Homo sapiens: one gene and its partners. The protein of the gene in region 1 interacts with the protein of each later gene in a biochemical or structural test. Each region holds a gene or a part of one and is shown on either strand. Other genes may lie near its edges.

Region 1 (4,247 bases):
TTTTTAGTACAGACAGGGTTTCACCATGTTAGCTAGGATGGTCTTGATCTCCTGACCTCTTGATCTGCCCACCTCAGCCTCCCAAAGTGCTGGGATTACGGGCGTGAGCCAGGGGGCCAACATGGTGAAACCCTATCTCTACTAAAAATACAAAATTAGCCGGGAATGGTGGTGCGCGCCTATAATCCCAGCTACTCGGGAGGCTGAGGCGTGAGAATCACTTGAACCTGGGAGGCAGAGGTTGCAGTGAGCTGAGATAGCGCCACTGCACTCCAGCCTGGGGGGCAGTGAGACTCCATCTCAAAAAAAAAAAAAAAAAAGAATAGAATAACCCTTGTTTAGGTGTTAACAAAATCCAGGCCAGACAAATCTAAACTTTAATCTCATACCCAGTTCCTAGATGAGTCCCTTCTCCAGCTCAGGTTCCGCCTAAGCCTCAGGGTTCCTTACTTGGTGGGCACCACCTGCTCCCTTCCCCACCTTTGTCCTCTTTTTCCTCTGCTGGCTCCTCCGGGGTTGGGTGTGTTCAGAGGCAGAGACAGGCTAAAGGTCTTTGGCTTTTAGGTTCTGTTGGTGGGTGAGTTCCAGATATAGCTTTCTCTTGTAGGATATTTCATTTATTTATCTATTAAAAATATTTATTTAGAACACACCATTCATGTGCCAGACCCTGTCCAGGCACTGGGGATAGGGTGATAAATGAGATCAACAAAAATACCTGCCCACATTAAGCTCCTGTTCTAGGGAAGACAGAAAGAAAATACACGTGTCCTTAGTATATTAGAAGATTCCAAGTACTGTAGAGAAAAATAAAGCAGGCTGGACTCGGTGGCTCATGCTTGTAATCCCAGCACTTTGGGAGGCTGAGGTGGGAGGATTACTTGAGCTCAGGAATTTGAGACCAGCCTGGGCAACATGGCAGATCCTGTCTCTCCCAAAAAAAAAAAAAAAATTTAGCTGGGTATGGTGGCGTGCATCTGTAGTCCCAGCCACTGGGGAGGCTGAGGAGGGAGAATTGCTTCAGCCTAGGAGGTGAAGGTTGCAGTAAACCGAGATCGTGCCATTGCACTCCAGCCTGGGTGACAGAGCCAGACCCTGTCTCAAATAAAACAAAAGGAAAGAAAGAAAATGAAAAAAAGAAAGAGATGGGGCAAGCAGGGGAGAGGGCTGGGGACACAGGGGAGGGTGCTGGGGATGCAGGGGAGGGTGCTGGGGACACAGGAGGGTGCTGGGGATGCGGGGGAGGGTGCTGGGGACACGGGAGGGGCTGGGGACATGGGAGGGGCTAGGGATGCAAGCTTTCCTGAGTTCCCACAGTTCTCTGCCCCTCTCCTGTCTCACGGGGTGTGGGCCACCTGTGGCTTGCGGTTGTTTCGCGCCAAGCTAATATCTTGTTCTTCCCAACAGAGAGGCCCGTTGAGGCTTCTCTGTCCTCCATGGGGAACAGCATTGGCCTAAACCTGCAGACACCATTGCAAAGGGAAGTCAGCTCAGGCAAACCCGCTGGTGAAGAAGAATTCCAGTGTGGGGACACAGAGACTGACATTTCTTGCCATGGGTGATTTAATTTTGGGCCTCAGTTTTTCATTCCCCCCTAAGAGTATGACGCAGCCGCATCCTTGCCAGGGCCGGAGGGAGGGTGGATGGACTTATAGGTGTTGCTTGTGGCTGGGTGACTTGCTTCTGCCAACGAGATTTTCACAGACACGGCACAAGCAGAAGCCTGGAATGTGTGGCACTGCCAGGCCTGCCCTCTTAGGCTCTTGATTTTCCCCACGAGATATGCGTGCCCCAGGGAACGGCGGCTCTGGCTGTGGAATGAGAGGCGTGTGGAGCAGGCATGGTTCCCACCCTCAGCCTAGAGTCAAGGCCAGACTAGATCAGCCTAAGCCCAGCCACGCCACGGGTGCAGCAGTGAAGAGCAAATGCCAACTGTCCATGACAGTGACTTTCAAAGGGGCGTGTCATGTGCCTCATCCCAGCAACAGGGAAGGCATTTCTCTATCAGTCAGTTGGTAAATGATTATTGACAATGTGTGGGAAGGTGGAGTTATTTGAGTAGATTTGGCCTCTATTCTCATGGAGCTTCCTTTCTAGAGGGGAAGGCAGATGATGGATGAATAAATATAAATGATTCTAATAGGTTGGTGCAGCAGTCATTAAAAGTAATGGCAAAAAAAAAAAAAAAAAAAAAAACGAGGAGCCGGTGCTGCAGTTCATTAATAGTAATGGCAAAAACTGCGATGACTTGTGCGCCAACCTAACCCAGTAATCACGGGTGTGCAAAATGTGGCGATGGGCAAGTTCCGAGTGCTAGGAGAGCATCTAGCTTCCCGGAGTCAGGAGACGGGGGTTGGCAACCTAACCAAGGTTAAGTCCAAGGGAGGGGGGTGGGCAGGGAGCGATATTTCAGTGGAGACTCCAAGGACGAATGGTATTTAGAGAGTAAACCCCGATAGAGAGGGTTTGTGTCTGGCACAGAGAAGAGCCTGTGCAAAAGCCAGCGGGGCGAGAGGACACCATGTGTTCATCCACCTGAGGGGCGACCAGCAGGCTGGAGCTCAGCGGGTTGAGAGGAGGATGCAGAGCCCGGGAAAGGCACCCTAGGCAGAGGGCACAGCAGGGCAAAGGCCTGGAGTCAGGCCTGAGCCTGTGTGGTTTGAGGAACGGATAGAGGCCTGTCCGGCAGGAAGGGAACAGCACAGGGGAGAGACCTTAGGCCAGAGCAGAGGGCAGGGCTGTGCTGGGCACTGTGGGCTGTGGATGGTGCTGGCATTTAAGAGGGGAGACCATAGACCAGGGCAGAGGGCAGGGCTGTGCCGGGCACTGTGGGCTGTGGATGGTGCTGGAATTTAAGAGGGGAGACCATAGACCGAAGTAGAGGGCAGGGCTGTGCTGGGCACTGTGGGCTGTGGATGGGAGCTGGCATTTAAGAGGGGAGACCATAAGCCAGGGCAGAGGGGTGGGGAGGGCTGGGCCAGGCACCAGAGTGGAGACCACAGGCCAGGGCAGAGGGCAGGGCTGTGAGGGCACTGTAGGCTGTGGATGGGAGCTGGCATTTAAGAGGGGAGTCCATAGACCAGGGCAGAGGGCAGGGCTGTGAGGGCACTGTAGGCTGTGGATGGGAGCTGGCATTTAAGAGGGGAGTCCATAGACCAGGGCAGAGGGCAGGGCCGTGCTGGGCACTTTGGGCTGTGGATGGGAGCTGGCATTTAAGAGGGGAGACCATAGACCAGGGTAGAGGGCAGGGCCGTGCTGGGCACTTTGGGCTGTGGATGGGAGCTGGCATTTATGCTCAAGTGATGGGAATATGTTAAAAGATTTTAAGGAGGGGAGTAACAGTTGGGATTAATGTGTATTCTGGGAATCTCAACAAAGTAAATTCATAGTTCGAATTTTCATAAGACTTCTGCACAGGCAGAGAGAAATAAGATCGCATCTACAGCTGTGTGGTGATTTTCTTTAAAAATACTACTAAGTTTTTAAACGTGATTTCAAATGGTGTGTTTCTGTTTCACATTGGACATAAGTAGATTGCAAGGCTAATGGAAAGTAGAAAAGTTAACTCATGAACATAAAAGAGACATCGATTTGAAAACAAAACATTTATTCATTTACTTCTGCTGCAGTTTTCTTGACTGCTGAATTTCGTAAGAAGGGATTGGTCAGGGAGGGTCTTGGGGCTGAAGACCTGGAGAGGAGCTGGTGCTATCGCTGTTCAAATCTGAAGGTGGTGGAGATGGAGCCTTGGGGAGGAGCCGGTGCTGCCTTTTAAGTCTATGAGAGTCGTTGAGCTGGAGGTCCAGGGAAGAGCTGGTGCTGCCACTGATGTCTTAGGTTGTGGAGCTGAAGACAGTGAAGGAGCTGGTTTGGCTGTTCTGTGAGGGTCGTGGAGCTGGAGATCCAGGTGGGAGAGGTGTTCTAGTTTGAGGGTCATGCAGATGGAGATCTGTGAGGAGCTGATGTTATTTTAATTGGTGGGTCGTAGAGCTGGAGACCAGGGAGGAACTGGTGTGGTTCTAGTTTGAGGGTTGTGGAGCTGGAGACACAGGGAGGAGCTGAGGTTCTAGTTTGATGGTTGTGCAGCTGAAGACTCGGGGAGGGGCTGAGGTTCTAGTTTGAGGGCCCTACAGCTGGAGATCCGGAGAGGAGCTGATGTTTTAGATTGAGGGTCGTGCAGCTGGAGAACCAGACAGGAGCTGATGTTATAGATTGAGCATTGTGCAGCTGAAGACTCGGGGATGAGC
Region 2 (4,247 bases), on another chromosome or scaffold:
CTCAGCCTCCTTAGTAGCTGGGATTATAGGCGCCTGCCACTGCGCCTGGCTAATTTTTGTATTTTTAATAAAGATGGGGTTTCACCATCTTGGCCAGGCGGGTCTTGAACTCCTGACCGCGTGATCCACCCGCCTTGGCCTCCGAAAGTGCTGAGATTACAGGTGTGAGCCACTGCGCCCGGCCCCCAAGTAACATATATTAAATGAAAAAAATGTTTGTTTCTAATAGTCTGTTTCTATTTTTCTTCACAGTGGGAATGTAAGACGGACTTAGATATTGCATACAAATTTGGAAAAACTGTGGTGAGCTGTGAAGGCTATGAGTCCTCTGAAGACCAGTATGTACTAAGAGGTTCTTGTGGCTTGGAGTATAATTTAGATTATACAGAACTTGGCCTGCAGAAACTGAAGGAGTCTGGAAAGCAGCACGGCTTTGCCTCTTTCTCTGATTATTATTATAAGTGGTCCTCGGCGGATTCCTGTAACATGAGTGGATTGATTACCATTGTGGTACTCCTTGGGATCGCGTTTGTAGTCTATAAGCTGTTCCTGAGTGACGGGCAGTATTCTCCTCCACCGTACTCTGAGTATCCTCCATTTTCCCACCGTTACCAGAGATTCACCAACTCAGCAGGACCTCCTCCCCCAGGCTTTAAGTCTGAGTTCACAGGTATGTTTCCCTCGCAGTGGCCATAAATAGAGCGGGTGTGAGGTTAGTGCATCCTGTGCTTGGTTCTGAAATAGAAAATCGTTGCATTGGGAAACCAAAGGAGGTTTGTCTTCTCATTTTGTTTTTTACTTTCAACTTCTTTTACCTCTTCTGTTTGGCTCTCTCCCAAGGTATATTGTGGTTGCTATGTTAATGCCTGATTGGCCGGGCGCGGTGGCTCACGCCTGTAATCCCAGCACTTTGGGAGGCCGGGGTGGGCAGATCACTTGAGGTTGGGAGTTTGAGACCAGCCTGGCCAAGATGGTAAAACGCCGTTCTTACTAAAAATACAAAAATTAGCCGGGTGTTGTGGCGGGCACCTGTGATTCCAGCTGCTTGGGAGACTGAGGCATGAGAATCACTTGAACCCGGGAGGTGGAGGTTGCGGTGAGCCGAGATTGCGCCACTGCACTCCAGCCTGAGTGACAGAGCGAGACCCTGTCTCCAAAAAAAAAAAAAAAAAAAAAATGCCTGATTAAATTATAAATACTCTTAATCAGAGAAACTTGATCAACTTTGCTAATAATCATTTGCCCTGACTCCTGTCTCACACTATACATAAAAATTAATTCTTTAAGTATTATAAATCTCAACGTAAAAGGTAAAACAATTAAGTTTCCAGAATAAAACATAGGAGAATATTTGTTATGACCTTAGGATAGGGAAAGATTTCTTAAACAGAACATAAAAAGTACTAGCCATAAAAGAAAACATGGGTAAATTAGACTTTATTTAAATTAAGAACATCTAATCATCAAAAGGCACTATTAGGAGAGTGAAAAGGCAAGCTACAGACTGGGAAAAATTTACGAAACGTATTTCCGGCATATATATATATAAAATGTATTTCCGGTAGAACATAAAATGAACTCCTGTAAATCTGAGCAACAGGCAGACAGGCCCTCCAAAGAGGACTTGAATGCCCATTTTATAATAAGAGAAGACATCTACTTCACCAGTCCCCAGCCTTTTTGGCACCAGGGACCAGCTTTGTGGAAGACAATTTTTCCACGGACTAGGGGGGTTGGGGTGGGGTGGGGTGGGGAGAGAAGGTTTTGGGATGATTAAAGCATATTACATTTATTGTGTACTTTATTTATGTTGTTATTACATTGTAATATATAATGAAATAATTAACAACTCATGTAATGTAGAATCAGTGGGAGCCCTGAGCTTGTTTTCCTGCAACTGGATGGTCCCATCTGGGGGTGATGGGACACAGTGACAGATCATCAGGCATTAGATTCTCATAAGGAGCATGCAACCTAGATCCCTCGCATGTGCAGTTCACAGTAGGGTTTGTGCTCCTATGAGAATCTAATGCTGCTGCTGATCTGACAGGAGGCTGAGCTCAGGTAGTAATGCAAGTGATGGGGGAGTGGCTTTAAATAGAGATGAAGCTTCAGTCGCTTGCTTGCTGTTCACCTCCTGCTGTGTGGCTCAGTTCCTAACAGGCCGTGGAGCAGTACTGGGGTCCCAACCCATGATTTACATGTTCAACAGAAATAAGAAAAGGTGCTTAGCATCATTAGTCTCCTGAGAAATGCAGATGAAAACCACAGGGAGATTATTTTTAGCCACCAGATAACCACCATAATGGCTAACATTAAAAAGACAGAGTACCAAGTATGGGCAAGAATGTAGAGTGACTGGAACTTTCATACTTTGCCGGTAGGAGTTTAAATGGTAAAACAACCCAAACATGCATACCCAATTCTATTCCTATGTACATACCTGGGAGAAGTGAATGCATGGTGCACCAAGAAAGATGCACAGGAATGTTCATAGCAGTTTTATTTATAACTGCCAAAAAATGGAGGTGGAATATCCATAAACATTAGAATGGGACTGTGTAAATTTTTCACACGGTGGAAGACACATGAGTTAAGAAAAAAACTGATAATGCAATGGTAGGATTGACTCCCATAGACATAATGATGTGCCGGACACAGAATACATACTTTGTGATCCTGTTTAGAAAAAGTTCATGAATGGACAGAATTAAAATATGGTAAGAGAAGTTAAAGTAGTGCTGATCTCTGACATAGATGGGAATCTATTAGGAGTTGTCATGAGGGAGCCTTCTGGGGTGCCAGAAATGGTTTATTGGTGTGGGTGGTGGTTACATGGATAGGTACATATGTACAAATTTGTTGTGCCACACGTGTAAGATTAGCACACTTTCTTATATATATGTATACATCAGTTAAAACTTCCTCTGAGCAGAAGATACTTTTTAGGTCCCTTTGAGATCTGACTTCCCAACTGACACAAATAAATATCTGGCTGCCTCCCCTTGGATTCCTCGGTTAGAGACTGAGGCACAGCTCTCATCTGGAGCTCTTAGAGACTCCACTTAGAGTTTGTACTGCAGAGAGAAAGTAACCCTGAAAAGTGGGGTGATTTTCTAGTAGCTGATTGAGCAGGGCAGATGTCATTTTATAGCAAGACCCTCCCCAGTCCCAAAATCTATCCCTCTCCTCCCATATCTATGGGAAATGCTCTCCCTCATTATAAACCAGTATTTTACAAATACCTTTTTGAATACAACTTGTTAATAACTTGATGCCTGAGTATTATTAATAATTCAGTACAGATGAAATAATTGAAATGTTACATTATCTTTGCTTTTGTAGACTGTCATGTTTAAGTGAGGATACATAATAAATCATTTTTATTTTAAGGACCACAGAATACTGGCCATGGTGCAACTTCTGGTTTTGGCAGTGCTTTTACAGGACAACAAGGATATGAAAATTCAGGACCAGGGTTCTGGACAGGCTTGGGAACTGGTGGAATACTAGGATATTTGTTTGGCAGCAATAGGTAAGCTTTTTGCATTGATCTCACTTGCTCTTTAATTCAAGAGGCTTGTTTTGCTTACAATTTAACTGCATTTAGTTTTGCTAAGGAAAATAAATTGTGGTGACGTTAGCCTATTAAATAAGATTCTCTGGGAAGGGGGAAGGTACACTATATTTGTTTTGATCAGTATTGTGTATGTTATTTTCTTTCACTGTGTTTCTTCCTGTGTCACCTTCATATATATTATGAGATAAGAAAAAGACTGTTTAGTTGACATCTGAGAAAATAAGAAGGCAGGAAAGAAGACAGCATTTGGGGAACAGTCTGGTTTGGTAGGAGAATGATAAAAATAAGGCTGGAAAGAGCTTGGGGCCAGATTTTGGAATATGAAGTATTAATGGTAGTTTAAGTTTAGATTTTATTCGAGTGCAAATTCAGAAAGAGCATTGACTCCCTGTCACTTTTCCCCCATAGCAGTGACCATAATAATGGCAGAAATATGAAACGGTTTTTATTTCATGTTAACTCTGATATACCAGAACATTCAGGAAAAAATACTTGATAAAGATATTTTTTTCTGACAGTTTAGGAACAGGAAGGTATTTAAAAATTATAGCCACAAGAAAAAAATGCCTAACCTACTTTTATCCCTTTAAAGAGCGGCAACACCCTTCTCAGACTCGTGGTACTACCCGTCCTATCCTCCCTCCTACCCTGGCACGTGGAATAGGGC
Region 3 (4,247 bases), on another chromosome or scaffold:
TTTTTAAAAAGAGAACTTTTAGATAGGGCATTGTAGATGGTATTTTCTACTACTGCAAGATGACAAAATGTGATCTGTGTTTCATATGCTTTATACACAGATACATATCAACACAAGATAGATTGAAGGACTGAATGGTGAAAAACTATGAGAATATTAGAAGAAATTATAGGAAAATATTTGTATACCTTCTGGATGGAAGTCTTTTTTTTCTTTTTTGTAAAATATATGTAACAGGCCGGGCACGGTGTCTCACACCTGTAATCCCAGCACTTTGGGAGGCCAAGGTGGGCAGATCACTTGAGGTCAGTAGTTCGAGACCAGCCTGGCCAACATGGTGAAACCCCATGTCTACTAAAAATACAAAAATTAGCTGAGTGTGGTGGTGCACACCTGTAATCCCAGCTACTCTGGAGGCTGAGGCAGGAGAATCGCTTGAACCCGGGAGGCGGAGGTTGCAGTGAGCCAAGATTGCACCATTGTACTCCAGCCTGGGCGACAGAGTGAGACTCCATCTCAAAAATAAATAAATTAATTAAATAAAATATATTTAGCATAAAATTTACCATCTTAACCATTTTTACATGTACAGTTGACTCATGTTAAATACATTGTTATACAATCAATCTCTGTAACTCTTTTTGTCTTAACAAGACTGAAACTCTGTACCCATTAAACAATAAACTCCCAATTTTGCCTTTCCTCCCAGGGTAGGAACTTTTTTTTTTTTTTTTTTTTTTTTGAGACGAAGCGTTGCTCTTGTTGCCCAGGCTGGAGTGCAGTGGCATAATCTTTGCTCACTGCAACCTCTGTCTCCTGGGTTCAAGCGATTCTCCTGCCTCAGCCTCCCAAGTAGCTGGGATTACAGGTGTGTGCCACCACGCCTGGCTAATTTTTTGTATTTTTTAGTAGAGACGGGGTTTCACCACGTTGGCCAGGCTGGTCTCGGACTCCTGACGTCAGGTGATCCGCCCACCTCAGCCTCCTAAAGTGCTGGGATTACGGGCATGAGCCACCGCGCCTGGCCATTACTTTTGTTTTTTAAAAAATAATTATTATTTTTAAAAATTGGGTTGGGTGGCCGGGCGCGGTGGCTCATGCCCGTAATCCCAGCACTTTGGGAGGCCGAGGCGGGTGGATCACGAGGTCAGGAGATCGAGACCATCCAGGCTAACACGGTGAAACCCCGTATCTACTAAAAATACAAAAAAAAAAAAAAAAAAAAAAAAGCCAGGTGTGGTGGCGGGCACCTGTAGTTCAAGCTACTCAGGAGGCTGAGGCAGGAGAATGGCGTGAACCCAGGAGATGGAGCCTGCAGTAAGCTGAGATCACGCCACTGCACTCCAGCCTGGGCGACAGAGTGAGACTCTGTCTAAAAAAAAATCGGGTTGGGTATCCCTAATCTGAAAATCTTGAAATTCAAAATGCTCCAAGATCTAAAACTTTGAGTGCCAACATAATGCTCAAAGGAAATGCTCATTGAAGCATTTTGGATTTGGGGTTTCTGAATTAGGGATGCGCAAATAGTTGTGCAAAGAAATAATGCAGATATTACAAAAATCCAAAAGTGTCTGAAATCTGTAGCGCTTCTTGTCGTAAGCATTTCAGATAAGGGTTACTCAACCTATACCATGAAAGCCAGTGATGTAGTGGAAAGAACCTGGCACTAGGAGATAAGACATTTTGCTTACTTTGATTTTTACTCCAATTTCCGACACTCACTCTAGTAACTTGCTGTTTGGACAAGTCCTTTAACTTCTCTGGGTTACCAGTTCTTTATATCAACAGAGTTAATGTTCAGTCACTAAGGTACTTTCCAACACAGAAAAATGTTTCCTTTTTGCATGATAGCACTCATTATTTGCTTATTAAATTGAACTAAAAGCTAATGAAAATTTTTGTGAATCAGTAAACCCAGAAGATTCTTTGGAGGTACATTTCTTGCATATCTCTGAACAGGCAGCAGAAGGGGCTCCTGCTTGGTTAGAGAACTTGCTTATTGCCCTGACCTTAAGGGATTAAACTATAAATCTATATATCTTCATAGTCTTGAGGTTATTTTTCAGAAGTTCTAGAAGGGAAATGCTGAAGCAGTTTCCAATTAGATTCTTAGTATCGCTTTGTCAGTGCCTTAGCAGGTAGATTGTTCTTACCATCATGTCCTCTACCCATCTCTATGCATATTGGCTGCTAAACCAGCTACCAGGATAATGACTCTTCTGCATACAGCAGAAGGAAATTAAATTGACAGCCAAGTTAAAATAGCCTGCCAAATAAGGGATTTTTAGTTATTAACCTTACCCATTACTGTCTCAAAGAAGATATAATGGAAATTACTTTTCTAATTTGTGGCTGTCTCCTTTTTTGAACTAAAGATCAGTGCAAATGGAAATGTGAGTCTCTGAACCCTGTTATTTTAGCAGTCCTGCATCTGCCTTATTTCTCTAACAACGTGTCACAGCACACACACACTCCCCTTCCCCTCTTTCTAAAAATAATGACCATGCCACTGCCAGGTTCTTCAGTTTTAGAAATGTGCTTTTTCACACTGTTCTTGTAAGATGTCCTAGACAAGCTTTTCTCATTAAAAAGATAAAAATCTCACTTAACAAGTACTCCATCATTGGCAGAGAACAAACAGGCTTCTTTCAGGTTGACTCTTTCACTAGCTTTTTTTTACACGAGTCAGATTGTTTGAGTATTGGTCTCCAACTTAGGGTTAAAACATTAAAACCTTAGGAGTTCTTCTGGGGAAGAAGGACTTTCTAGGCACAAAATAGTGGAAGAAATGACAAAGAATAAAAACATATTTGAATAAATAAAAAAATCATATACAAAATTATGATAAATTAGGAACATAGGTTTGGAACAACCCTTTAAAGGGTTAAAGGGTTGGCCTGGCAGGGTGCCTTACGCCTGTAATCCCAGCGCTTTGGGAGGCTGAGGCAGGTGGATCACCTGAGATCGGGAGTTTGAGACCAGCCTGACCAACATGGAGAAATCCTGTCTCTACTAAAAATACAAAATTAGCCGGGCTTGGTGGCACATGCCTGTAATCCCAGCTACTCGGGAAATTGCTTGAACCTGGGAGGTGGAGATTGTGGTGAACCAAGATCGTGCCATTGCACTCCAGCCTGGGCAACAAGAGCAAAACTCCATCTCATAGATAGATAGATAGATAAATAGATAGATAGATAGATAGATACATAGATAGATAGATAAAGGGTTAAAGGGTTAAAACCATTTGTGTGTAAAGAGCTCATAAGAATGCATGAGACAGGGCCAAGAGCAGTGGCTCACACCTGTAATCCCAGCACTTTGAGAGGCTGAGGCAGGCGATGGAGCCCAGGAATTCGAGACCAGCCTGGCCAACAGGATGAAACCCTGTCTCTACTAAAAGTATAAAAATTAGCCAGGCATGGTGACGCATGCCTGTAATCCCAGCTATTGGGGAGGTTGAGGCAGGAGAATCATTTTAGCCCAGGAGGCAGAGGTTGCAGTGAGCCAAGATCACACCACTGCACTCCAGCCTGGGCCACAGAGCAAGACGCCGTTTCAAAAAAAAAAAGAAAAGAAAAAAATTAGTGGTCCCAGCTACTAGGGAAGCTGAAGTGGGAGGCTAGGAGGATGCTTGAGCCCAGGAGGTCGAGGCTGAGGCTGCAGTGAACCATAATTGCACCAGTGCACTCTAGCCTGGGCAGCAGAGCAAGACCTTGTCTCAAAAAAGAAAAAAAAAACAAGAATGCATGAGAGAAACAATAAAGATTTGAGTGTACAGTTCGCAGAAGGGCAAGTAAAGCTGGCTACTAGATACAAGGGAGGGAGTTCAACCTAATTAATAATAGGGTCTTATTAGTTATAAAGAATTAAACATAATTTTTTGCCTACCAGAGTGTCAGAGATTTAAAAACTATCCAGTGCCTCAGAAAGTAGAATGAGTTGGCACCTTTATAGTGTTGGTGGGAGTGTAATTGGTAACAGCTTCAAAAAGTCACCTTATGTCTCAAAGTAATTTTTTTTTTTTTTTTTTTTTTTTTTGAGACAAGGTCTCACTCTGGCTCCTAGGCTAGAGTGCAGTGGCATGATCTTGGTTCACTGAAACTTCACTTTCTGGGCTCAAGCAATCCTCCCACCTCAGCCTCCTCAGTAGCTGGGACTACAGGCGTATGCCACCATGGTGATCTATTTCATTTGTTTGTTTGTTTTGATACAAGGTCTCACTGTGTCACTATAGTGCAATGGCATGA
Region 4 (4,247 bases), on another chromosome or scaffold:
GGAGTTTGAGACCAGCCTGGTCAACATGGTGAAACCCTGTCTCTACTAAAAATACAAAAGTAAGCTGGGCGTGGTGGTGTGCGCCTGTAGTCCCAGCTGCTCGGGAGGCTGAGGCAGGAGAATCATTTGAGAATCACCACTGCACTCTAGCCTGGGCAACAGAGTGAGACTTTGTCTCAAAAAAAAAAAAAAAAAAAAAGACATGGATGCAGTGATTGCATTTTGTTAGACCACTTTTAGTCAGATAAACAAGAAGAAAGTTCTTGGTTAGAATTGTATATTTTTAAATTTATAAACAGCCTTCCTTTTCTTTAGCAGTTATGTGAATTTGACTCAACCTTACTTGTTAATTCTCCAGACTTGCCAACTTGGTATCATGGATGGTATTTTATATAATATTAACTGAGCGTATCTGTGGTTATTTTTCCAAAATGTAAAAAGGATCTTCTCTCTTCCCTGCTTTAAAACGTTCACTAGTTTCACTTTTCCTAGAGCAGTGCTTTTCAAACTGTGTACCTAGGCTGATACTAGCTAACATTTACTGAGTACTTAACATGTGACACTATTCCAGGCTTTGACATCTGTTACTGGTTTTATTCTCAAAACAAACCAATGAAGTAGGTATTAGTATCTTAACATTTTTATGAGAATTTCATTTTGCTTTGTAATATTTAATACAAAAAAGCTTTTTTTGTTTTTGTTTTTGTTTTTTGAGATGGAGTCCACACTGTCACCCGGGCTGCAGTGCAGTAGCATGATCTCGGCTCACTGCAACCTCCACCTCCCAGGTTCAAGCAATTCTCCTGCCTCAGCCTCCTGAGTAGCTGGGATTACAGGTGCCCACCATCACGCTTGGCTAATTTTTTGTATTTTTAGTAGAGACGGGGTTTCATTATGTTGGCCAGGCTGGTCTCGAACTCCTGACCTTGTTATCTGCCCGCCTTGGCATCCTAAAGTGCTGGGATTACAGCCGTGAGCCACCGCGCCCGGCCCTAAAAAGGTTTTTAAATGGATGACCTAGCATCAAGAAAAATGGAATCTAAGAAGATTTCTATCATATTTGTCTTTTGTGACTTTTTATACTCCAAGGCATAGCATACCATGTACTAGAAGTGAAAATTTCTTTGTATGAAATTAGGGACAAAAGACATACTCAAGAACTTTTTTAAAAAAATAATTAGATTTCGTAGACCTAAAATTATTCTTTTAAATTGCTGTGCAAGTTTCTAAACCTCTTACTCTCGATTCCTGTATTTACCTCATTTTAGATGGATACTTGAATGCAAAGGGCACTGAGTAGCACTATTCTCCCTCGTACTTGATGTTTTAAACATTTTGTTTCCCGTCCCTAAAATGAGTGCACATCCCTGTTTTCTGTTTGGTGCATTTCTACTTTTCCTTCTTCATGCCTCAAATACTCTTTCCCTGGGAAGCCTGTCTTAACTGGAGGCCATCTCCAGCAGAGCTACTCCATCTGTGTGCTTCCTTAGCACCGTATTCACATCTTTCTTAGTTCTTGGTATGTAGTTGGTGTACTTACAGACGGTGAGCTTCTTGAGGGCAGGGGCCTGATTTTAAGTCTTCTCTATATCCGTTATAGCACCTAGCAGGTATGAGTAAATGTTGAATGAATGGATGAGTGAACAGATAGGCTGTTTCAAATTACAATGTTTGGTGTAATCTAGAATCTAGCCTTACCATTAGAAACTATAGGCTACATCATTTAAAGCCTCCCAGGGCAACTAGTGGCAACAACCTAACCCCTGCTCTAAGAACATGCTTCAAGTCCAGGCTGGTATGGTATAGTATTACTGTAGTAGTAAATGATTGAAATGCCCGCTAGGCAGAAGTTTTATCATTTAATGATAATGCACAGTAGGCAGAAGTTTAGTGCCTAATGTTCTGTCTTATTTATTTCAGGAATTGTTGGATAAATATTTAATAGCCAATGCAACTAATCCAGAGAGTAAGGTCTTCTATCTGAAAATGAAGGGTGATTACTTCCGGTACCTTGCTGAAGTTGCGTGTGGTGATGATCGAAAACGTAAGTTTATTTGTTATATGGGCAAAAGTAGAATATAAAAAAAAGAAATGGGGATAAATGGGACACTATGACAGTATACGTAGTCTTCAGGCTCTTTGTGACTTAATAATTGAATGTATGTCAAGAAAATTAGTATTACCTTATGTTCTCAAAAATGAAAATTGGATTATAAATTTACATCACATGCTCTTTAAAAAAATTAAGCTCATCTGTGAACTCTGTAATCTCATATGGTATTATTTAAAACAGGATTAATCTTTTATGCTTTTTAGAATTTTGGTTCACCATATTTTTAGCTCCAGAGTTTTTTGTGTAAACTTTATGAGTGATTCTGCATTTCACATGGCCTTTCTATTATGCCTTAAAACTTCAGATCACTGGAAATTACATACAGAACGTGGAAACAGGTTGTTGTGCTTTTGCTGTTTGTCATATTCATTATCGTCTATTTTAAGGGGTCATAACATTGACTGCTAATTACATATAATCAGATTTCTGAGGAGAGGTGAAATGAGTGTGTTATTGCTGGTGTATAACTTGCTCCAACTTCACAGTAAGTTTGAATGACTCATGGTTAGGTTTTACTTGAGAAGGTTGAATATACAGGAACTGTTGATTAATCAAGTAGTGGTCATAAAAATAGATTTTAGTATTAAATACCTTTTTTTTTTAACCTAGACTATCATAGAAAACATGGATATGAGAAAAAGTGACCGAATTGCCTAACTTGATAATAAAAAAGTGAAGTGAATTTATTTGCAGTGAATGTCTCTTGGGATACTGGCAGCTGAATATAAGATAGATCTCATTAAATTTAGTGTATGTGCTTGCTACCAGATTTATCAAGTTCTAGGTATTAGAAGTGTCAGTCCTTATTTTTTCCAGTAAGTTTGTTGTTTTGTTCTTAATTTTGCCCTGTCTACAAAGATATACCCCTACAAATAGTTACTATGATCTGAAAATGAGAGTTTTGCCATCCTAAATATCAGTGTAACTGAATATATAAAGAGAACTTGTACCTGAGAAACTGTTATACCTTGCTATAACAAAATCTATATACTAAACTTACTTATTCTGTTACTGATGTGTAATTTCTGTTGCCATGAAGGTAAGCAGAATTGGACATGATACGGGCACGGAACTGTACATTTAAGTATCAGAAAGCCAAAGAGAAGTATTTGGGAGATTGAGACATAGCTGTAGCTTTAACCTGATTTAACCCTTAGGAGCTCATTGGCACTTTCAGGTCTCACACGTAGTCCTGTGTACATTCTGATAGGCTGCGATTCATAGATAGGCTGTCTTTATAGCCTAATTGCTGAGACACTGGTGCTTCCTAATTTGCCAAGCTGCAAGAACTTCTTATTGCATGTGGGCTGTACCAGTCAGGGATTAGATCAATAAATGTGCCATTTCAGAGGAAAGAAAATGAACATAATTCAGGTCATAAAGGGATAGCTTAATTCTCTTACGTCAGTATCTCTAAAGCTGTAATAGGCCAGTGGCCTCATACAGAAAACTACCCTTTTCAAAACATGGGTATAATCAGATTAGTGTTGGTAATACTGAACATTTTTTGAAGGGGGAGTAACATTTTAATTAGGCTAGTAATCAAACTCTGGTCAGAGCAGATTTTGTCCTATTTATTGAAACTTTTATATTGCCTTTCAAATAATACCACTTGATACTAAGAATCAGTATTTCTGCAAATCAGAAAAATAGAGATTTTGGTGTTGATGATCTTTGTAAAGTTTACATTATTTAGGGAAAGGGTATTCCAGTCAAATTATTATTATTATTATTAATTTTGAATGGAGTTTTGCTCTTGTTGCCCAGGTTGAAGTGCAATGGCGCGATCTTGGCTCACCGTAAGCTCCGCCTCCCGGGTTCAAGTGAGGCTTGTGCCTAGCCTCCCAAGTAGCTGGGATTACAGGCATGCATCACCACTCCCATCTAATTTTTGTATTATTAGTAGAGACGGGGTTTCTCCATGTTGGTAAGGCTGGTCTTGTACCTCCAACCTCAGGTGATCTGCCTGCCTCAGCCTCCCAAAGTGTTAGGATTACAGGCGTGAGCCACTGTAAATTATTCCAGTCAAATTATTTTTAATTGCTGCATTTCCAAGTAATAGAATTAAAAGACATAAAATAAGAAAATAGTTTTAGCCTAGGTATGGAAAAAAGTCTGATTTACTATAATATCT
Region 5 (4,247 bases), on another chromosome or scaffold:
CCTGCCTCAGTCTCCCAAAGTGCTGGGATTACAGGCATGAGTCACCGTGCCCGGCCTCCTCTCTCTTCTTAGCCACTGTTTTCCCCCGTAAGCCTGAAGCAGTTCCTGGCACTTGTTCCCATGGGGAAGCGTCTGTGTAAGGGTATGCTTCACCAGCACTGCCAAGGAAGTAGACTTTTCACTTTCTCTGGATTTTTCTCTGCAACACCCTCTGATCCCATTGCCCCCAGAATAGTAGGAATTTTGAGTGATACCTAGATAGGAAAGCTCTTAGGATTAATGAAGAAACTGAGATTTTCTTGGTGGGAGTTTGTGCTTTTAAAGGGAGTTGTTGCAATTCAATGGAACTCTGTAATAACCACTGAAACTGTTACACATTAGGCTTACTGACCCTATCTCCTATAACCCATGAAATAAAGACCTGATAGTCACATAGTTGTTTGCTATTTGGGAGGATCCTAAAAGTACAGCCTGAACAGTGACCCAAACCACAGCTGGCCTTGCCCATGCTGATGTGAGGAAGGAATGGGTGGGGGCAACTAAGAAATTGGGGGACAGAGTTCTCTGTGCTAGGTATCCTAGGACAAGCCACCCAGCCACACAGAGACCCCCCGCTTCCCCCCCACAGAACAGTTCTGGATGATAAAATGCCTGCCTGGAATGGAGAATCAGATGAGAAGATGTTTGCAAAGGGGTTTGAGATCAGTTAGCGGGTGGTGATGACAATGTTGATACCGTGGGTGTGTGACTGCCAGGAGCTGTGAAGCAGAGGGTGGAGTGTGCGGTGGTCAAAGCCTGGTTCTGGGATCTCTAGCTTTCCAGGGGCTTAGGCTCCGCCTTAGCAGAAAAGAAGGAAAGGAAATTGAGAAGGAAGTCAGGTGTCCCCTGCCCCTCACACTTGGGGATGGCTGACTTGGAGGACATGAGATGGGGGAAATCTGAGTGAGGGCAGAGAAGAGAAATGTGGAGGCTGCTCACAGGGAGGCTAGGGAGCATATGGCATATCCAGCCTGGGGAGTGGCACCACTGGGGGAAAGGGTGCGTGTGACAGTGGGGAAGGAGTGGTGATAACAGATGTGAGCTTGCTGTGTCCACTAAAAAGGTCACGGCTATTTTTAGGAAGTAGGTGACAAGGCATGTTCCTGTAGAACTGCTTATTACTGAGAACCCACTGTTGGCCTCGCCCTGCGTGGTGTGCTTAAAAGGAGAGACCGCCCCCACTCACCCTAGAGTCATCCACCTGGTGTCCCTGAGACATGGGACACTGGATGAGGACCAGGTTTGGAGGATGAAGAAGATCATGTATTTGGTTTTGGACATGTTGTGTTTGAGGTGTCTTTGAGATACCAAATAAGCTGGTGGGTCTGGGGCTCAGGAGGCGTCTTGGCTAGACAGACATTTGTCTAGGTTGTGTTTGTATTTGAAGTCATGGGCACAGCGAGATTGAAGAACTCACCTCGAACAGCTGAGTAAAGGAAGATGAGCCTATAAAGGACCCAGAAAAAGAGCGACCTGAGAGGGGCCCAGAAAGCCAGGACAGAGTTGTATCCCAGGGGCCAGGGTGAGTCTGCTTCGTGGGATGGAGTGGTCAGCTTGGCATCGCGGCTGTGGTGAGTGATATGGAGGAGATGTGGCTGCCTTCACTGCTTTGGTGGGATGATGTGAGCAGAAGCGAGGTTGGAGTGAATGGGTGAGGAGTAGCAGGACGTGAGGATCTGATGATAGACAGGCTCTGAAATGTTGGCTTTGAAGGCGAAGAGGACGTCGTTGAGGGAGTGTTTGATTCTGTTGCCTCGATTTACCCTCCTGCTCCCTTTCCAATCCCAGAAGGGAACATGTGGATGGCCTGCCACTGACATCCCTCCCCACGGCGCTCCGTGCTCAGGCAGACCTAGGTACCTGCAAGGGTTTGCTTCTTTCACAAAGTGGATTCATTCTCATGAATGAATGAATGAGTGAATGAAGCATGTTGCCCAGGTTGGTCTCAAAGCCCTGGCCTCAAGCAATCCCCCCGCCCCGCCTCAGCCTCCCAAAGTGCTGGGATTACAGGAGTGAACCACTGCACCTGGCTGGTATTAAATTTTCTTTGTGGCCAACTGCATGATAAATATTAACATGTTTCATGGGCGTGAAAGGAGAAAATAGGTCCTCTGCGGGACGCTGACTTTAGATAGATCTCTTAACTTCAGTTACCCTTATATCCCTGCTTGCCTGGCTGTCAGATTCTGAGAGGTATAACAAAAACTCTCACTGTAGTTTTTTAAAGTCCAGCTCTACTTATATTTGTGGGAGTTCTAGCCTTTTGAGTTTGGCTTTCGTGTTTCATGTATATAGGCTTATCAAGCTGATCTTCCTACCTGTCATTTGCTGGTTATTTAATGCCTTTGGTCTTTGGTCTTAAATTCCATATTGTCTGTGTTTTAGGAGAATACATGGCCAAGGATCTGGGAGAATCTCTTTTCTTTACAGTCTTAAAATTAATAAATAAGTGCATTTTATAAGATAATAAGTGAAAGGCTCAGAAATTTAAATGCAGGCATCAGAGGACATTCAAGCCATGCCCCTTTAGCTTCTGTTCAGGCTCACATGGAGCGGTTAGTAATCAGGTCTCACTGATGACCATGAGCTCCCTGTCCTTGGCTGTCCTAATGGTTCCCATGATAGCCAGATTTTTAGGAGGGGTGGATAAAATGAGATTTGCGTGCAAACTCCTGGGACGTTGCCTGGGAACCTCTTCTCTCACTTTGCAATTCCTGCCCCTTCCTGTAGGTCCAAGAAGCGGACTGCTCTGCCTCTCATTTACGCATTTCCTTCCTCATTCCAGACAGCAAGATGAGTTTTTGACAGAGTAGCCAGTACAAACACTTCTCAGGGCCAGAAGTCAGAAAGACGCGGGCCCCAAGTCATAAGCTCATCTCTGTGCTTGTGTTTTAAGCCACATAAACTGTCTCAGCGGGCTGGACTAGGCTATGCCTTGTTGTACCCTGAGATCCTAGTGAGTAGTTCTCCAAGTACTGTGTTTACAGATAAAGGCAAATGCCAGAGAGAAATGGCTGGAAAAACCCCTTGGCTTGCTAAGGCAGGATTATCGAAAAGTCTTCAACATATATGTTTTTAAATTTTACATATTTTTTCATTTTTATTTATTTTGAGACCAGACTAATTTTTGTATTTTTGGTAGAGATGGGGTTTTGCCATGTTGCCCAGGCTGGTCTCAAACTCCTGGGCTCAAGTAATCTGCCCACCTCAGCTTCCCAAAGTGCTGGGATTACGGACATGAGCCACTGCACCCAGCCAACCACTGTGCCCAGCCTATTTTTACTATTAATATTTCCACCTCTGTTTTTCTTTGCATTTATTTGGTATGTCTTTGCCCAACCCTTAGTTTTAAATATTTCTTTCTCACTTAAAAAAGTTTATCTTGGCTGGGCGCGGTAGCTCACGCCTGTAATCCCAGCACTTTAGGAGGCCGAGGCGGGCAGATCACGAGGTCAGGAGATAGAGACCATCCTGGCTAACACGGTGAAATCCCGCCTCTACTAAAAATATAAAAAATTATCCAGGCGTGGTAGCGGGCGCCTATAGTCCCAGCTACTCGGGAGGCTGAGGCAGGAGAATGGCATGAACCCGGGAGGCGGAGCTTGCAGTGGAGCCGAGATCGTGCCACTGCACTCCAGCCTGGACGACAGATCAAGACTTGGTCTCAAAAAAAAAAAAAAAAAAAGTTTATCTTGAAGATGGAATCTTCGTAAATAAAATTTGTTTCTCTTATAATCAGAACGTGGTTGAGGGTGGATGGAGGTTGACAGAAGGCAATGATAACAGCAACAAACCTAATTGCATGGTTTCTGTCTTTGGTAGAGGAATTCTGACTGTTGACATACCAGATATACTTGATTTTATTCTTTGCATCTTGCTTATTACTTATTATACTTGCATGCATTCCTTTCCTGATTTTTGCTGTTGGGTTAAGTTTCTCATCGTCATCTTCCCCACGCCACCTGTATTACGTTTCAGGTTTGGTTGTGAATGAAGAGAGGAGCCCCGTCTCTCTCTCTCTCTCTCTCTCACTCACTCTCTCACTCTTTCTTGAAAAATCAGGGTCGAGGTTAAGTGTGTGTTCCATGAGATTGTCTTGGCACCAGGCTCCTTATGGACTGTTGTCCCTAGCATTCTCAAGGGCTGTGGTTTTCAAACTTGAGCATGTATAAGAACAATCTGGAAGGCTTGTTAAAGCATAGATTCTT
Region 6 (4,247 bases), on another chromosome or scaffold:
CAAAATAATTATGCTGAGTGAAAAAAAGAAGAAAAAGGACACACTGTGATTCCACTGCTGTAATATCTAGGAAATGCAGCTGAGCAGGCCCATGGTCACCACGATTGGGGGCTGCAGGATGGGGAGATGGATTACCAGGGGATCCGAGGAAACTTTTGGGAATGATGGGCATGTTCCTTATCTTGATTGAGGTGATGTGATGATCCTACAGGATATATTTTTGTCAAAATTCACCAAATCATGCACTTGATATGCAGTTTATGTCAATTATACTATATCAAAGCTGTTTTTAAAATTAGCTTTTGAGTGTAAAGGATATGAACTATTATCAATATGCAAGAATTCAGGGACTATTGTTTCTAGGAGCCCTTCCTGAGAAATCTACTAGAGGATACAAGTCACACAACTAAAATGACTACAAAGACTTCAGCATAAATATATAGTTACTTGTAGAGAACTAAGACGAAATGAGGGTTAAAAGGCTGGGCCCAGGGCAGGCACAGTGGCTCACACCTGTAATCCCAGCACTTTGGGAGGCTGAGGCAGGCGGATCACCTGAGCTCAGGAGTTCAAGACCAGCCTGGCCAACATGGCAAAGCCCCATGATGTGGTTTGGCTGTGTCCCCACCCAAATCTCATTTTGAATGCCCATGTGTTGTAGGGGGTAACCAGTGGGAGTTGAGTCATGGGAGGAGGTCTTTTCCATGCTGTTCTCTTGATAGTGAATAAGTCTCACAAGATCTGATGGTTTTATGAAGGGGAGTTCACCTGCACAGGCTCTCTCTCCCTTTTTGCTGCCATCCATGTGAGATGTCACTTGCTCCTCCCTTGCCTTCTGCCATGATTGTGAGGCCTCCCCAGCTACATGGAGCTGTAAGTCCATTAAACCTCTCTTTTTTTTGTAAACTGCCCAGTCTCAGGTATGTCTTTATCAGCAGCGTGAAAATGGACTAACACACCCCGACGCTACTAAAAATACAAAAATTAGCCAGGCGTGGTGGCACACACCTGCAGTCCCAGCTACACGGGAGGCTGAGGCAGGAGAATCACTTGAACCTGGGAGGTGGAGGTTGCAGTGAGTCAAAATCGCGCCTCTGCACTCCATCCTGGGCAACAGAGCCAGACTCTGTCTCAAAAAAAAAAAAAAGGCAGTGGCTCACACCTATAATCCCAGTACTTTGGGAGTCTGAGGTGGGAGGATCACTTGAGCCTACGAAGTTTGAGGCTGCAGTGAACCATGATCTTACCAGCCTGCACTCTAGCCTGGGTGACAGTGAGACCCTGTCTCAATTTTTAAAAAAAAAAATTGTTAATAATAAATAAAGAGGAGAATCAGTCATCTTTGGAAAGTGATAGAACCAGTTCAGAAAGAATCAAGCGTTTATCCAGCCTTTCCTTTTTGACCTTGTATTAGTCTGTTTTCTCGCTGCTGGCAAAGACATACCCAAGACTGAGCAATTTACAAAGGAAAGAGGATGGAGAACTCACAGTTCCACGTAGCTGGGGAAACCTCACAGTCATGGCAGAAGGCAAGGAGGAACAAGTCACAGCTTACGTGGATGGCAGCAGGCAAAAGAGAGAGCTTGTGCAGAAAAACTCCCATTTTTAAAATCGTCAGATCTAGCGAGACTTATTCACTATCATGAGAACAGCATGGGAAAGACTTGCCCCTGTGATACAATTACCTCCTACCAGGTCCCTCCCACAACACGTGGGAATTCAAGATGAGATTTGAGTAGGGACACAGCCAAACCATATCAGACCTCTATCCCTGGGTAACTGAATAGTTAATGAGAAGAAGTGTCCCTATCTGGAGCATTCCATGGAATAAATGACAAAGAAAGGATGGAATTAGAGTATCACCATTTTACAAGCCCCAGTGAATTAAGAGAGGCCTGAGTTATTGACAGCTGTTAATATAAGAGACAATCTAACGTGCCTCCTGATGAGAGAACGCACCAGCTCTAGTCTTGCCAAAGGGATCACACCTGAGTCTGTCCAGTCTTGGCTCCAGCTGACAGTTTTCAGGAATTCAGAGGAACATATTGAACTGCATATGAAGCAGCAAAACCCAGACCGAGAGACTAGGCTCTCTTCAGCAGAAAAATTGTAAGGAAAAAAATCAGAGGAGGAATCTGCAAAGTAGGAGATGTAAAAAACATCCAAAAAAATGTTTAATGGACAAGACTAAACTATAGTATCTAGGGGTGCACATTTGGGTGATAAAATGGGGGGAAAATGGGTTAGAAGTTAGGGCAGTGGTTACTTATAGTGGAAGAGGGAGCTGTGATTAGGAAGGGCATAATGACAGGGCTTTTCAGGCAGGTGGCAGAATTCTTGTTTCTTGATCTATTACTTTATAATAAAAGATTTTTCTTAAAAAAAAGCTCCAATGTACCATTCTTTCATGTGTTTAGAAAATGTCCTGTTTCTTAAACTTGTGGGAGTTCTTAATTTCTACTTTTAGCGCACACTGCAGAAAAATGCACACACTGTTGGGATCCTTGAGGGAGAATTCTGAGCAGTGGACCCCATGATGAGTGCTTCATGTCAGCCTTCACACACACTCCAGTCCTGAGAAGCGGAGGGGAGAGGGACAGCAGGCTTGGGTCTGCAGAAGCAGTGTTCTCTTGCAAGGCAGAGTCACCATGTGTCCCATCTTTACAGATTGGCTGCAATGCCGTCAGCTGGGCCCCTGCTGTTGTACCTGGAAGCCTCATAGACCACCCATCGGGGCAGAAACCCAATTACATCAAGAGGTTTGCATCAGGTGGCTGTGACAACCTCATCAAGCTGTGGAAGTAAGTAGGGATGTGTGGCCTTCTCTTTGAGGGGACACTTCTACCCTTTACCCTACTCACCATGACTCAGCCACACTCACAAGAAACAAGGTCACCTTTCTTTCTCCCTCCTGCCAGTAAAATACTGTTTTCAATCTGTTGGAGGACATCCTTGAAAAACAACACAACACCTGTTCACCTAATTCCCAACTGTTGGAGCTGACTCTTTGGCTGTGGAAGCAGAGCATTTTCTGGAGGGTTTTTTTTACAGCTGGGGTGAAGGGAATAAAATGCCACAAACTCCATGAATGAAAGAAGAAAGATGGAATCGCTTCTCCACCCCAGGCAGAGCCTGTTGGGTTGGGGAGGAGTTGAGGTGTGGGAACGGCCCCCTGCTGATTCTCTTTCTGTCCCCACTGTTAGGGAGGAGGAGGACGGCCAGTGGAAGGAGGAGCAGAAGCTAGAAGCGCACAGTGACTGGGTTCGAGATGTGGCCTGGGCCCCCTCCATCGGCCTGCCCACCAGCACCATCGCCAGCTGCTCCCAGGTCAGCCCAGGGCCATGAGTATCCCTTGTCATTTAGTCTCGAGTCAGGCCCATCAGCTCTTAGTCTCCTTAGCAGAAAGTCCTCTGGGAAGGTAAAGGGAGAGCAACAGGCACCTTTGGCCCAGAGCACAGGGAGTCAGGTCATTGTGTGGGGAAGTCTTGGTCAGAAGCCACAAGTGGCCTGCCTCCACTGAGATGAGACAGCTACAACAGAACCGGCACCAAGAAGGAGGCGGATTCGGGATGAATTTTCCCTTCTGACCCATGTGAGACTAGGGCGCCGAGGTGCCCAGGTGCAGTTCCAAGTGTTCCCAAGCAACGATGGGGTTGGATGGGAATTATACGCTTAGCTACCAAGCCACCCTTCCCAGACAGCAAGGACGGCCAAGGGTGAGCCTTCAGTTATACACCACCACCCTAGAGGGAGCCAGCTAGGCCTTTCACATCATGGGAACCTGTTTGGTTTGGTTCTAAACTTGGGATTTTTGTGCTTTTTTACTTGTGCCTTCTCATTCTTGGAGCTTGGTTTTTGGAGAGCTCTGCCCATTCAGTTGAGAAGGTATAGACGGCCAGTGGAAGTGACTTGGCAGGCATGAGGAAAACCCCAGAGAAAATCTGAGTTAGCAATGCAGACAGAGTCCACCTCCGAAACCCGGATGAGAAAAGGAATCCGGGAGACTCTTAACCAGTGTGAAGAGACAGAAACAAAGCTGTGGACGCCCCAGAGGTCCTCGGCTCCCCTTTGAATCCCCCACCCTGTTCCTGCAGAGAGGTGCCGGGTGGCTCTAGACTGGGAGGACATCACATCACAAACGCAGGAGTCTTGACTCCACCTCCTGACTCTATCCTGTTTCTTCCTAGGATGGTCGTGTGTTCATTTGGACCTGTGATGATGCCTCAAGCAATACGTGGTCCCCTAAA
Region 7 (4,247 bases), on another chromosome or scaffold:
GCTCATTATCATCCCTTCCTCAGGAAAACTACACCTCATCCAATTCATGTCATCTCAAGGGGACTGTCAATCCTGGCTTTCTGTGGGTTCCCCAACTCACCCTAACCACAGCCACCACAGTGGCTACCCTTGCTGTAGCTCATCTCCCAGGTTCCAATGATTGGTTAAGGAACTGACAATCAGAATTGATTACCAACAACACAACTGACATGTGGACATCAGGAAAGAGAAGCTGTCTTTCAAGTGTGGTTGCTAAGCTAAAGGTATATGTCTGGGGCTCCAGAAGCAAGAGGCTAGAAAAACCCAGAAAGGAGACAAAGAAACCCAATGACATTACTTGCAACCTTGGATCTAGCTGTTTCCAAAGCCATTCCATCACCCTCCACATACAATACCCAGTATGTGAACCAATACACTCATTTTTTAACTTAACAAAGTCGTGTTGTTATTACGTGTAACCAAAGGATTCATGACTAACATCCTACCTAAAGAAGAGTAGTTAACCAATTATAGTGCATCCATTCAAGGAAATAACATTGACAGAATAGTGTAACTGTTAAGAGCATGTACTCAGCCCAGTCTGAATCCTGGCTCTGCTAAATATTCTCTATGTGTGCCTGGGTACATTCCTTTTTTTTTTTTAGACAAGGCCTCACTCTGTTGCCCTGGCTGGAGTGTAGTGGCGTAATCACGGCTCACTGCAGCCTCAACCTCCTGGGCTCAGGCGATCCACCTCAGCCTCCCAACTAGCTGCAACTACAGGCGTGCACCACAATGCCCGGCTAATTTTTGTATATTTTTGTAGAGACAGGGTTTCACCATGTTGTCCAGGCTGGTCTCGAACTCCTGCGCTCAAGCCATCTGCCCACCTCAGCCTCCCTAAATGCCGGGATTACAGGCATGAGCCACTGTGCCTGGCCCTTGGATACATTACTTAACTTCTCTATGCCTCAATTTCCTCATCTATAAAGTCGGGATAATAACAGGACTTCATGTGATTGTTAGGAGAAGCAAATGAATTACTATTTACAAATGCCGGGAATAGTGTCCAGCATTAATAAATATGTGTATCTTTTTTTTTTTTTTTTTTTTTTGAGACGGAGTCTTGCTCTGTCGCCCAGGCTGGAGTGCAGTGGCGCCATCTCAGCTCACTGCAAGCTCTGCCTCCCAGGTTCACACCATTCTCCCGCCTCAGCCTCCCGAGTAGCTGGGACTACAGGCGCCCACCACCACGCCCAGCTAATTTTTTTGTATTTTTAGTAGAGACAGGGTTTCACCGTGTTAGCCAGGATGGTCTCGATCTCCTGACCTCGTGATCCGCCCGCCTCAGCCTCCCAAAGTGCTGGGATTACAGGCGTGAGCCACCGCGCCCAGCCATGTGTATCTTTAAGTAAATGAAATAAGTATCTTTAAGTAAATGAAATAAGTAACAGAGTAGTATACAAAGTTGAACTAAACTACATATTTACACAGATGTTTAAAAGAAATCGGCAAGGAAAAGGGAAATTTTATATTTTTTATGAGGCAAATATACAGTATCAAAAAAGGAAAAAAGTAAAACATGTCTCTGGTCTTAGGAGACAGGATGAGTATGATTAGCCTCACACAAACCCCTCTGACCTTCACCAGAGGAACTACATTCATCCTCAGATAGGAAGCACTTACCTAAGTGTCCAGTGGGGAATCATGAAGTCACACAACTTATCATATTAACAGCAAGAATTTAAACCTAGTAGTTTATTTACTCCAGCTAATTAGTTTTCAAGGAAAAGCACAAATTTATGAGTATAACCAATTCTTAACAATCCACATAGATGAAGAGGAAAAAATATTTTAAGTCATCCCCCCAAAATACTTATATTTGGCTAATGAATCTATGTAGAATATAATCACTTTTATTTAAATACAGGTTAAATTGCCTTCTTGAAATTCATTAAATTTCAGACCTAATGATGAAGCCACATTGGAAAAATTTAATTCAAGTTTGACAACCTACCACCTGGATCTGCTCTGCTCTGCATATCTTTCCACTCCATGACTGATAAATTCCTATCAATCCATTCAAATCCTGCCTCTCAATTAGGTTTGCTATATAATACATGCTACCAAAGGTTTTGTTATTGTTGTTGTTGTTGTTGTTGTTAGCAATAAAAGAATTAAAACTAAGTATTTTTTTAAAATACTTTTTTACAGATTAGCTAGACTGCACATCCTCTTCCCCTTGCCCATACTGAATACTATTAACAGAGTCAAAGATCTGCCACTAAAGCATTATAATTTAGTTTAAAGCCTTGTCCATCAGGTTATAAAGCCTCCACAATAAATAGACTGCTCCGATACTGACAGTGGGAAGTTTTTTGTTCAAATTCTAGTATTTACTTGTTATGGCTCCAGTGGGTTTATGAGGCCAAAATATCAAGATAAATGGAATTACAAATTAGATTATCTAACATGGAAATAAAATTTTTCATTGATGTATCTCTAACATTTTCCATGAATGGACAAAACTTATCTTAAAAAAATGAAGTGTAGGATTTGCACAGCTGGTACAGCTTTCTAAATTGGGTTGTTTGGTTGGGGTTTTTGTATTTTTTTAAATCTTATCTTCACACGTGTATAAAAACTCATGCAAAAAAAAGTTAACAAAAGTTTAGAAGTAAAATGAATAAGCCTGGAAGTCTGATTAGTAAGTTAAAATCTGCTTAGGAAAAACTACTAAAATACTAAAAACCAAATTTTCATATTTTAGGCAATATATCCTAGTGATTAAAATACACCAACTTGGTTCAAATCCCCATCATGTACTACTCTAGGTCACACTGGTAAGTCACTTTACTTCTCTGTGCTTCAGTTTTCTCATCTGAAGATGGGAATAACAACTGTATGTAACTCAGAGTTATGAGATATAAGAATTAACATGTGCGAACACAATAAACTTTAGCTATTACTGTTACTGTTATCCATATCACCCTCTAAAATATAGTTCACTTAAGAATTACTAAAATAAGCATCTTCCTGGGTCTGAAATATGTGCATACCATGATATATAGAGAGATGATGTATGTGAAACAGTCCTTTGACAAAACTTTTAGTTGAGTGCCAACTCTGTAGAGGATGTCCTCCTGTGCACTGAAAATACGAAAATGAACAAAATATAGTCTCTGAATTCAAGACCTTTCTGTCTAGTAGACAATATAAATAAAACTATAATAAAAGTAGCATGATGCAGATGCTATGGAAACAGACAATCCTGTGAGACACTAAACAACACAGGCACTTAACTAGGGGCAGACACAGGGGTCCCAGATAAAATAAACTCCAGCAATATTTTCTGAGGAACAATCACCTACTTACTTCACTTCCGGGTATCACACTGTTATTTACGCAATTTATATTATTAATATATTAATAAGTGTTTTACAAAAAACAAGACTACCTATCACACTACTTACCATGCTCATAAACTTAAATACCCTTTGGTATTAATGAAGATGTTTTCTTTTTTCTTTTTTGAGACAGGGTGTCACTGTGTTGCCCAGGCTGGAGTGCAGTGGCATGATCATAGCTCACTGCATCAACTGCAGTCTTGAACTGCTGGGATCAAGGTGGGATCCTCCCACCTCAGCCTCCCCAGTAGCTAGGACTACCGACATATGCCACCATACCCAGCTAACTTTTTTTTTTTTTTGAGACAGGATCAGGCTAGTCTCAAACTCCTGGACTCAAGCAATCCTCTTGCCTTGGTCTCCCAAAGCTGGGATTACAGGCCTGAGACATAGCACCTCGCCTGATGATATTCTCTTAAAAAAACAAAATATAACCTTGCAAAGGTTATACTGCCTCTTCAAGAAACATTTCTTTCACCAATAAATAAAAGCTACAAACTTTCCCCTAATAAATTATATTACGACTAATGTCACAGGAATGACAATATTTTTGAGCTGGAAGAGACCTTTGAGAGCCTCTAATCCAATGCTCTCATTTTACAGATGAAAAGAGGCTGTAAAGTATAATGGAAAAAAAAAACCAACCTGAGAGTCAGAAAACTGAATTTTGGGCCCAACTGTCTTACAGTGAAAGCCTGTGCAAATTATCTGCTTCCTCATCTGTAAAATGAGAGGTTTGTACTAGATTGCTTCCAAGATCCGGTTCAGCTCTGTAATTCTTAGTTTATGGAACTGAAGCAGAGATAAGCAACTTGCCCAAGGTCACACAGCTAGTTAATAGCAAAGTAAAGACTATCCTCA

The links.
Region 2: the proteins of PDCD6 (region 1) and SARAF form a complex in vitro, tested with the Homo sapiens proteins (one study listed by BioGRID).
Region 3: the proteins of PDCD6 (region 1) and KLHL12 form a complex in vitro, tested with the Homo sapiens proteins (2 studies listed by BioGRID).
Region 4: the proteins of PDCD6 (region 1) and YWHAQ form a complex in vitro, tested with the Homo sapiens proteins (one large-scale study listed by BioGRID).
Region 5: the proteins of PDCD6 (region 1) and ANXA11 form a complex in vitro, tested with the Homo sapiens proteins (one study listed by BioGRID).
Region 6: the proteins of PDCD6 (region 1) and SEC13 form a complex in vitro, tested with the Homo sapiens proteins (one study listed by BioGRID).
Region 7: the proteins of PDCD6 (region 1) and TLK1 form a complex in vitro, tested with the Homo sapiens proteins (one large-scale study listed by BioGRID).

The regions. Positions count from the first base shown.
Region 1 is NC_000005.10:277,611-281,857, forward strand, and holds part of PDCD6 (programmed cell death protein 6), read left to right. Parts: intron 1-4,247. UniProt on the Homo sapiens protein: Calcium sensor that plays a key role in processes such as endoplasmic reticulum (ER)-Golgi vesicular transport, endosomal biogenesis or membrane repair.
Region 2 is NC_000008.11:30,066,065-30,070,311, reverse strand, and holds part of SARAF (store-operated calcium entry-associated regulatory factor isoform 1 precursor), read left to right. Parts: intron 1-252; coding exon 253-670; intron 671-3,393; coding exon 3,394-3,535; intron 3,536-4,172; coding exon 4,173-4,247. UniProt on the Homo sapiens protein: Negative regulator of store-operated Ca(2+) entry (SOCE) involved in protecting cells from Ca(2+) overfilling.
Region 3 is NC_000001.11:202,902,951-202,907,197, reverse strand, and holds part of KLHL12 (kelch-like protein 12), read left to right. Parts: intron 1-4,247. UniProt on the Homo sapiens protein: Substrate-specific adapter of a BCR (BTB-CUL3-RBX1) E3 ubiquitin ligase complex that acts as a negative regulator of Wnt signaling pathway and ER-Golgi transport.
Region 4 is NC_000002.12:9,589,189-9,593,435, reverse strand, and holds part of YWHAQ (14-3-3 protein theta), read left to right. Parts: intron 1-1,920; coding exon 1,921-2,044; intron 2,045-4,247. UniProt on the Homo sapiens protein: Adapter protein implicated in the regulation of a large spectrum of both general and specialized signaling pathways. Binds to a large number of partners, usually by recognition of a phosphoserine or phosphothreonine motif.
Region 5 is NC_000010.11:80,198,573-80,202,819, reverse strand, and holds part of ANXA11 (annexin A11), read left to right. Parts: intron 1-1,426; exon of another isoform or gene 1,427-1,561; intron 1,562-4,247. UniProt on the Homo sapiens protein: Binds specifically to calcyclin in a calcium-dependent manner. Required for midbody formation and completion of the terminal phase of cytokinesis.
Region 6 is NC_000003.12:10,304,113-10,308,359, reverse strand, and holds part of SEC13 (protein SEC13 homolog), read left to right. Parts: intron 1-2,667; coding exon 2,668-2,801; intron 2,802-3,203; coding exon 3,204-3,327; intron 3,328-4,187; coding exon 4,188-4,247. UniProt on the Homo sapiens protein: Functions as a component of the nuclear pore complex (NPC) and the COPII coat. At the endoplasmic reticulum, SEC13 is involved in the biogenesis of COPII-coated vesicles.
Region 7 is NC_000002.12:171,150,399-171,154,645, forward strand, and holds part of TLK1 (serine/threonine-protein kinase tousled-like 1), read right to left. Parts: intron 1-4,247. UniProt on the Homo sapiens protein: Rapidly and transiently inhibited by phosphorylation following the generation of DNA double-stranded breaks during S-phase. This is cell cycle checkpoint and ATM-pathway dependent and appears to regulate processes involved in chromatin assembly.